Linked DNA regions of Homo sapiens: regions 2 and 3 are each reported to be linked to region 1. Evidence: microRNA targets listed by miRTarBase, many of them from high-throughput screens and not tested one by one. Region 1 holds a microRNA gene; each other region holds the end of a gene's coding sequence.

Evidence for each region. Region 1 holds the annotated microRNA hsa-miR-6758-3p (ACUCAUUCUCCUCUGUCCAG, at 1,979-1,998, shown strand). A microRNA usually pairs through its seed, bases 2 to 8, with sites in the 3' UTR of a target mRNA and lowers its output. Matches are read on the target gene's strand: a 7mer-m8 pairs with bases 2 to 8, a 7mer-A1 pairs with bases 2 to 7 and ends in A, and an 8mer does both.
Region 2: miRTarBase lists RPF2 as a target of hsa-miR-6758-3p. Seed matches in the 3' UTR shown: 7mer-A1 at 1,943-1,949.
Region 3: the mRNA of IARS1 is a reported target of hsa-miR-6758-3p. The part of its 3' UTR that is shown has no 7-base or 8-base seed match.

What each region holds. Positions count from the first base shown.
Region 1 is chr12:57,510,753-57,513,752 of GRCh38, forward strand. It overlaps MIR6758 (microRNA 6758), which reads left to right and starts at 1,936; the gene lies at 1,936-1,998. MARS1 (methionyl-tRNA synthetase 1) reads left to right here. Exons shown (of 21, transcript NM_004990.4): 12 at 946-1,116; 13 at 1,256-1,351; 14 at 1,484-1,601; 15 at 1,999-2,212. It also overlaps the pseudogene LOC124903093.
Region 2 is chr6:111,025,428-111,028,427 of GRCh38, forward strand. It overlaps RPF2 (ribosome production factor 2 homolog), which reads left to right. Exons shown (of 10, transcript NM_032194.3): 10 at 1-2,836. The coding sequence ends at 155. Among named protein-coding and RNA genes, the nearest start is that of RPF2, 45 kb to the left of the region's middle.
Region 3 is chr9:92,208,080-92,211,431 of GRCh38, forward strand. IARS1 (isoleucyl-tRNA synthetase 1) reads right to left here. Exons shown (of 34, transcript NM_002161.6): 34 at 2,128-2,810. The coding sequence ends at 2,728. LOC112268048 (a long non-coding RNA gene) reads left to right here and starts at 1,370. Exons shown (of 2, transcript XR_002956919.2): 1 at 1,370-1,516; 2 at 1,975-2,079.

The DNA.
Region 1 (3,000 bases):
AGACCCTGTCTGTATTTAAAAAAAGAAAAAATTGGTTGGGCACGGTGGCTTATGCCTGTAATTCCAACTTCCAACACTTTGGGAGGCTGAGGCGGGAGAATTGCTTGACCCCAGGAGTTTGAGACCAGGGTGGGCAACTTGGTGAAACCCATCTCTACTAAAAATACAAAAATTAACCAGGTGTGGTGGCACGTGCCTGTAGTGCCAGCTACTCAGGAGGCTGAGGTGGAAGGATCACTTAAGCCTGGGAGGTTGAGGCTGCAGTGAGCCATGATGTGCCACTGTACTCCAGCCTGGGTGACAGTGAGACCCTGATATGGACAAGATTAGCACATCCTCTGCACAAGAATGACATGCAAACTTGTGAAGTGTTCCATATTTTTAAAAATTAAAAAAAAAAAAATTTTTTTTAGGGACAGGATTTTGCTGTGTTGCCCAGGATGGTCATGAACTCCTGCCCTCAAGTGATCCTCCTGCGTCAGCCTTCGGAGTAGCTGGGATTACAGGCGCAAGCCACTGCCCCTGGCTGTGTGTTAAAAATCTAGTTAAGGCTGGGCAGGGTGGCTCACAACTGTAGTCTCAGCGCTTTTGGAGGCTGAGGTGGGCAGATTGCTTGAGCTCAGGAGTTCAAGACCAGCCTGGGCAATGTGGCAAAACCCTGTTTCTACAAAAATTACAGTCTGGCATGGTGGTGTGCACCTGTGGTCCCAGCTACTGGGGAGGTTGAGGTAGGAGGATTGCTTGAGCCCAGGAGGTTTAGGCTGCAGTGAGCTGTGATTATGATTGCACCACTGCACTCTAGTCTGGGCAACAGAGCAAGACTCTGTCTCCAAAAAAAAAGTTATATATTGCCAAATTGTGCTCCAAAAAGGTTATATGTGTTTATCCTTATGCTAACCATATATGAGACTTTCCTAAATCAGCCCTCTTTCTCCGTTATCTCAGCTGGAGAAGCGACTGGAGGAGTGGTTGGGGAGGACATTGCCTGGCAGTGACTGGACACCCAATGCCCAGTTTATCACCCGTTCTTGGCTTCGGGATGGCCTCAAGCCACGCTGCATAACCCGAGACCTCAAATGGGGAACCCCTGTACCCTTAGAAGGTTTTGAAGACAAGGTAAAAACCCTTTTTTATTCATATCATTCAGCCTTAGTGTTGAAACCCTGGGCTAGCAGAGTAGACTGCTGATTATGTCTTGTTTCAGTTTGAGACTTTGGATTGGTCCCTAACATGTTTACCTCCTTCTGACCTCCAGGTATTCTATGTCTGGTTTGATGCCACTATTGGCTATCTGTCCATCACAGCCAACTACACAGACCAGTGGGAGAGATGGTGGAAGAACCCAGAGCAAGTGAGCAGTTCTTGGTTAGGCTGTGCATGGGGAGGGTAGGCGGTAGGGTGTGGGTGTTAGGGTTGGGTGTCTGGTCTTCCTTGGGCCTTTGAAGGAGGTCTCAGGAAATCTCTCCTAACCACATTCCCCTAGGTGGACCTGTATCAGTTCATGGCCAAAGACAATGTTCCTTTCCATAGCTTAGTCTTTCCTTGCTCAGCCCTAGGAGCTGAGGATAACTATACCTTGGTCAGCCACCTCATTGCTACAGGTAAGTACCCTGGAAGACTACTGATGGGGTGTTCATAGGAAATGAGGGGTGAGGCAGTACTTGGAAAAAGATCTTGGAGAGCTGCTATCTTGAGTTAGGAGTTGAGCTGAAATAGGAAATAATTAAAATGAGAACTCAACCTAGAGAAACGAACAAGAACCTGAAGAAAGCAAAAGTCTAAAGCTAAAACTCTTTAGTAGATATAAGCAAAGAGAAAAAAGGGCCAGAATGGATAGGAAGGGACTCCCAAAATCTGAGCATACCAGCCCCTTAAGGAGAAATGTTGCTAGACACCCATAGTTGAGGTTAGAAAGAGGAAAGAAGGAAGAGTTAGTGGGCTAGAGAGGGGAAGGATGTGATGTGAGCAGATGGTTCTCACTCATTCTCCTCTGTCCAGAGTACCTGAACTATGAGGATGGGAAATTCTCTAAGAGCCGCGGTGTGGGAGTGTTTGGGGACATGGCCCAGGACACGGGGATCCCTGCTGACATCTGGCGCTTCTATCTGCTGTACATTCGGCCTGAGGGCCAGGACAGTGCTTTCTCCTGGACGGACCTGCTGCTGAAGAATAATTCTGAGCTGCTTAACAACCTGGGCAACTTCATCAACAGGTAGGACTTGGTAAGGGGTCAGAGTTAGCAGTGAGCTGGGGTGGGGCTCATTTTCCCTCAGGAGATGGGAATGTGGAGAGAACTAGAAAATGGGCAGGAGGCTGTGAGGACACTGTGGAAAGTTGATTTCTATTAATTGGGATCTGTTCCTAGCACATACTAGGCTATGTGTGCTTGATGGAACAGTTAGCTGTAGAGATGTGATTTAGCAAAGTTGGTTATAAAGTGGGTTTTTGTAAATTGTTTCCTTATTACTGTTCTTTGTAGAATTGAAGATGTATTCTCTCCCAGCAAAATAGTTCACCTGCAGATCATTGAAAAGTTTGGCTGAAGAAAGGGGTTATTTTGGTGTGGGGGTAGGAGGCTTCTGTGGGCTGGGCATGGTGGCTTACATTTGTAATCCCAGCACTTTGGGAGGCTGAGGCAGGAGGATCACTTGAGGCCGGGAGTTCAAGACTTGCCTGACCAACATAATGAATCTCCCATCTCTACAAAAAGAATCAGCCAGGCGTGGTGGCGCACACCTGTAGTCCCAGCCACTCAGGATGCTGAGGCGGGATGGTCTCTTGAACTTGGGAGATTGAGGCTGCAGTGGAGCAGTACTCGTACCCCTACACTCCAGCCTTGGCAAAAGAGGGAGATCCTGTCTCAAAAAAAAAAAAAAAAAAAGGCTTCTGCTATACTCTTCAGAGTTCAGAGTTTTTGTTACCTTAGGCTCACATTCTATCATTGGTGCCTATCTCAGCTCTTCTGCAATCTAAAGCAGTATTCTCCAGAATTTAGGATTC
Region 2 (3,000 bases), not on the chromosome of region 1:
ATGATACTTTTGGTACAACTTATGGAAGGATTCATATGCAGAAGCAAGACCTAAGCAAACTACAAACCAGGAAAATGAAGGGGTTGAAGAAGCGACCTGCAGAAAGGATAACAGAAGACCACGAGAAAAAGTCAAAAAGAATTAAAAAAAATTGATGGAACTTAGCCAGCCACTACTGTTTCATTGTGTTCTACTTAAGAGAATTATCAAGCGTCAATCCATTCAGAGTTTCTTATAAGATCTTATTATATATTTTTATAACATGATAATTTTACGATATATTATTATGAACAGTAATATACTAGTATTAAGTGTAAAGTAAGCCTTTTATTTGAGACATTACACCCTGGTGTGCCATTTTCTCTTGTGATATCCCCTGCCCTCCACAAATTCTTCTTTCTCATTGGGTGGATGGATGGGTGAGGAGGGATCTCCATAACCATTGGGATTTTTTTGAATTTCTGGCCTTAGCTAAAGAAAGCCACAGAAAGCCGGACCCGCAGGAGCTGTGTAAACAATCTCAGTATGAATTACCTGGAAAGTTAACCTCCTCTCCCAACATGGATCTACATTCTGATTTTTATTTTCTACTTTTATTTTGCCTGAAATCCTACTCGTTGACATTTGAGATTTTAAGCTTTGTGGCTGAAAATATATAGATCTCTGAGAGGGATGTCTGCTATCTGATTATTGATAAATTACACTACTGTTGATTGTTTTAAGAGACTCTACTACTAAGTAGAGCCCACCCCGCTTCTCTGAGACGAAACCTGTGTTTTTTGGTTGGTTTGTTTTTAAGAGATGGGGTCTTGTTCTGTCACCTAGGGTGGAGTGCAGTGGCACAATCACAGCTCACTGCAGCCCTGAACTCCTGGGCTCAAGTAATCCTCCTGCCTGAGCCTCTTACGTAGCTGGGATTACAGGCATGAGCCACTGAGCCCTACTTTTTTTTTTTAAAGCAATGAGGTCTTGCTGTGTTGCCCAGGCTGGACTCAAATTCCTGGGCTCAAGTGATCCTCCCACTTCACCTTCCTGAGCAGCCGGAACTACAGATGTTGGTCCACTGCACCTGGCAGAAAAGAAGTTTTGATAGGGGCAGAAATGAAAAAGGAGAAAACAGGTGAGTTTTAAGGTGCAGGGCACTTTAGGGTACTGGGTAGCCCTAGGTAGCTAAAGGTTGCATGAAGGCCCTGGGCGTTTGCAGATGGTGTAGAAGCCAGCCAAAGCCTAACTACTTGTTTTGAAAGTTTCTTGAAGACAGGCCTTGTGCCTAGGAAAACAGAAGCTTTCTTCTTCCTTCTACTAGTATTGCATACTTGTTTTTCTGGAATAGGGTGTTAAGTTCCTTGATTCAGTCCTTGACAAGGAATCTCCTTTATACAAGTGCCAGTAATGTTGTAAAGGTACAGACATACGCAAATCATAATTTGTTACATGAAGTACCAGTGCTTTCTTTTTTGTTGTTTTTTGAGACAGAGTCTCGCTCTGTCGCTCAGGCTGGAGTGCAGTGGCGCGATTTCAGTTCACTGCAACCTCCACCTCCCAGGTTCAAGCATTCTTCTGCCTCAGCCTCCCGAGTAGCTGGGATTACAGGCACCCACCACCACGCCTGGCTGATTTTTTGTAGAGACAGGGTTTCACTTCAATTCCATGTTAGAGAGCTCCGTGCCTGTGTATACATGCCTTTATGTAAGCTTGCTCAGCTACAGATCAACAATGCTGGCACTAAGCAAAAGTTCGAGCCTCAGCTTTACCTTCTACCCTTTCCCTTCTCTTTTGAATCCATTCCTTAGCTTTCCCTAGTCCTCTCCGGATAGCTGTTACTCTCCTCTTGCCAGAAAAATGAAGGAGCTGGTATCATTTATACTTTTTGTTTGATTATACGTTTAACCAAAGACCATACAGTCTCGTACCTGAATCAGACATTTGCACTTTATATCTAAATGAGAAGAAGGGGCTCAGATAAGTCGTTTGCTGCCATCTGGAGGTAGATGGACAATAGCTGAGAAGGGGAGCCATGAAAAGAACATCAGGAGTGATGGACGCATAGTCCTTCCCCAAAGCCTCGCTCATCACTGGTAGGAGGCAAAGCAGTGGGTCCTCCTCACCAGCCGCTTACGGGACCCTGCCATGCCTGGACCCCTCTATCAGGAAGACCTACCCCAGCACTACTGGAAAATCAGCCAATCTTAACCCAAAGATGGCCATGATTTCTGTATGTGAGACGTCTTAAGGGTGTTTTTGTTTGTTTTAATCAGCCCTCTTGTTTGAGATTTGGCAATACATTTCTGTTTTCTAGGTAATTTCTGTGTCTGATGGTAGAGGATCTAATAAGTATTGGAATGCTTCCTATTTGCTGATAGAAGTACCAAATAGTATTATTGAAGTCTAACAAAGACTTTTTGTTGAGAACACCTTGTAGTGTTGTACTATCTGGAACTCTTGAGCTGCCATTTATATCACTTTTTGTGGAGAGCACATCTTGATTTTCAGTTGTCCTTACTTTAGAATACAACACACATAAATTGGAGACTATGTATTCATTTCAATGGAGGTGGTAAATTGCCTGTTTTAAGTTTTACTTAATGTTGGGTTTTGGTAGATGAGGAAAGCATTTTGGTTATTTGTTTTGTTTTAAATACCAAATTTCTTATATTTTTTCTGGAATATTAATACTATTACCAAGCTATTATTTCATGGAATTTGGGTTTCTTTTTTTTTGTTTTTTTAAAATTAAGTGCTGTTTGTTTTCTTGGTTATTGAACATAATCCAAAGTAGAGATGTTATTACTCAATTCAAGAAAAGAAAGGGCTAATAAAACTTAACTTCAAGTCAGTTTTCATTTATCTGATTAGCTACTTACATGATCTCTCCTTCCTTTCCTTTTTATGTCTAGCTACTTAAGGCTAAAAATGGAAGGCTTCAAAATGGAAGAAGTTAAAACTACTAAACCCATTGCTAAGATCCGAACAACAAAGGAAGGTTTGCTTTTATTGAAT
Region 3 (3,352 bases), not on the chromosome of region 1:
TTAGCCAGGATGGTCTTGATCTCCTGTCCTCGTGATCCGTCCACCTCGGCCTCCCAAAGTGCTGGGATTACAGGCATGAGCCACCGTGTTCGGCCAAAGATATCTTTCAATCTGGCTGTAGGTTCTGCAAAATTTGTTTACATTAATTATAATTTTCTGACCTTATTTTTCTTCTTTCTGGAATTCCTACAATTTGGATACTGGAACTCCTGGACTCTAACTTATGTATAATATCTCTTTTCTCCCACCTTAAATATTTATTGTTAATCTATCTAGTGTCTGGAAAATTTCACACTATTTTCCAATGATTTTTTTTCTTTTCTATTAAGTCTTATATTAACAGGAACATTTTTTTCTCCTCTTGAGATTTTCATGTTTTGTAGCATCGTTATTTTACAGATGTAGTATCTTATAACTCTAAGGATATTAACACATTTGGCAGGGGGAATTTTCTTCTCACTGCATTGCTTGATTCCTCAAAGTTGTTTTGGTACTCTCTTTTGGTTTTGGATTAGAGGCTTTCACTAGATCTCTCGTAATTCTAGATGGAAGTCTCATGAATAAGAGTTGGGGGCTAAAACACTGACCTGAGTATGGACTTCTCAACTTCAAAGTTAATTGTTCAGAGTGAGCCTTTTTCCCAGCCAATACTTGGTGTCAATCTTTTATATTCTTCTTTGGTATAGTGGACAGTATACATAAAGCCACTTAATCTTGTTTCCAGTACAGTACTCTGTATAAAGGAATTTGGCCTTGCCCTTGGATGTTATGCTACATAGGAATGCCTCTGTTTACCTGGGGATCTTGAATCATACTGAATAGCCTTGACAGTATGATTTATGGCTGGGGTGGGACAAATCTATACAGTCTTATGGTGGGGGGGGTGTACAACACATCAGAAATACCAACAATGTGATTTAGGGTGGAGGTTTTGGGTCATGCACGAGCAGCTGACCTAGAGACTGCGATTAACCACATGGACAATCAATCATGGATATGTAAAGCAGCCTCAGTAAACACTCTGGGTTCCAAGGCTTGGGTGAGCTTCCCTGGCTGGCAATACTCTGTGCATACTGTCACACACTGATGCCAGTAGAGTAATGCTTGCTGACTTCAGAGAGACAGGACAAGAGCTGTGTTTGGTACTTCTCCCGGGCTCTGCCCTCTCCTCTTCCTTTGGCTGATTTTGATCTTTAACATTTCCCTGTCATTAACTGTAACCACGAATACAATAGCTTTCATTGAGTTCTGAGTCTTTCTAGCAAATTATCTAAGCTGAGGGTTGGTTTTAGGAATCCTCCAGGCTTACAAGTACTCTTGTCTTCCATTCACTCCGACTTCTACCAACCAGTCACTTTTTACCTTCCAGATGCCAACTGTGGGGGGAATAAAGTTGCTTAGCAACGTGGAAATGGGAGAAGCTATAAGGCTTCCCAGTGTTCACGCAATCGTCCCTATTTCTGTGCCTCTTCTACCTTTCATCCCAGAGGTTAACTGGTGCTGTGAATTCTGAAATGTAAGTAAGTTTATCAGTTCCTCCATTGATTTAGAATTGGGGTTTCCTGGGTCTACCAAGTTAGTTAACACCGTCTATCTGCTTTCCAATTCCCCAAGTTCTGGTTGTTTCCTCTATTTTCTCCAACTTGTGGGTTTTTGTGTGAATGCATCTGTTGTAGTAGCCATAGGGATGTATCATTCAGATCTCCCTTCAAAAGAATCTGACATGAGGAGTGTAGTTGGTACTTTCAGATCCATCAAGGCATTTGTGCGAAGGCCACGCTCCCCTTGGTCTCCTCCCAGAAACTGACTTGAGGAAGTCAGAGAAACAAAGCCAGGCTATTTCTGCCCAATTCTGAACTCTACTAAAAGGAATCCTTGCTTGGGAACTCTCCATTGGCCTGACCAAGACTTCATCTTAGAGTTGCACTGCAGTCTAAGTTTTTGCTAATCAATCTTCATTTTCTCTTTTTACAGGTGTCAGACCCACACTGCAGTCTGAAGGCTCTCTCGACCTACGCTTGCTCCATCTCCCGTTTATCCTCCATTTATGTTTCCTCTAATAAATTCTTGCACATCTAACTTTGTCATGTCATCTGCTTCTCTGAGGACTCAAATTATCACCTGGGATTTTGGAAAGAAGTTTTATTAGATGTCTAGTCCACTGTCTTAATAAGAAACCACCATGAAGTTTTTATGTTCTTCAAAGTTTACACATTTCAAGTTTCATTTATCTATGGGAGAATGAATTACTTTCAACACATTTATATCTGAGTTTGTTTATTGTTCTGATTTACTGAAACTTAAAATATTCCATCAAATTATCCAGGAAAATCCAGGTGGCAGAAATATATAATATGTCCATTTCATCAAGAGGTCTCAAATAAATTTTAAAAGGCCAGAAAATGATATATATACTATGCCATTTAAATCACTTCTATCTTCTGTACTTAAGAACTCAAGTATAGAAATAAACTGTGGGCTGAAGTAACATTGTAACCTGCTCCCAACATGACTGCATAGGTGTCTAAGGTTAAGTGTGAAGATTACTGTGAGGTCTCAAGTTACTTGACTAATCAATCCCATTTGAATTTCAATCCAAGCAGCATATTTTACACACACCTGAAGGAAATATCTTCAGTGTGTTCATGTGTGTGTCTATGTGCATGTATGTGTAGGGGATAGGTGTAATTAGGGAAGGGCTGACCGAACAACATTGATAAGTACATGCTAGAAGTCTGCTGTTGTTGGTAACACAGAAACATACACAGTCTTCATATTCAAAGTCTTCACGGGGATGTCTTCTGTAATTTCTAGAATGGAAAGAAAAAGTTGAAAAAAAATCAGTATTTTACCTATTGGGGGTGAATATTTAAAAAAATGTTAACTGCTTGTGTAGTAAGGAATTTGGCCTTATCCTAAGAGTTCTGCCTTTTGTCCCAGCTCCTGAGGTGAACCTCTAAATCCTTGGAATTTCCTGGTAGGAATCTTTGTTTCTCATGGTGGGTATGTTCACCAAACCTGACAGTTGTTGCTAATGAGACAATTCAGGGTAGTGCTGGCCAGGACAGAAAGACCAAGTATATGATTTAGGATGGGGACTTTGGGTCACATGGTATATCAGTTGAGAAAGACAGCAATCATGCCTACAGAATGAAACCTCAACAGAAACTGGACACCAAGGCTCGAGTGAGCTTCCCTGGTTGGTAATATAGTCTCTGTGTTGTCAGATGTAAGGGATGAGAGGAAGAAACATTATCCATGACTCCAGGGTCTCTCTCTCTCTCTCACTCTCGCTGGTTCTAACGTGTATCCTTTCCCTACCCTAATTCAAACCATGAGTGTAATACCTTTT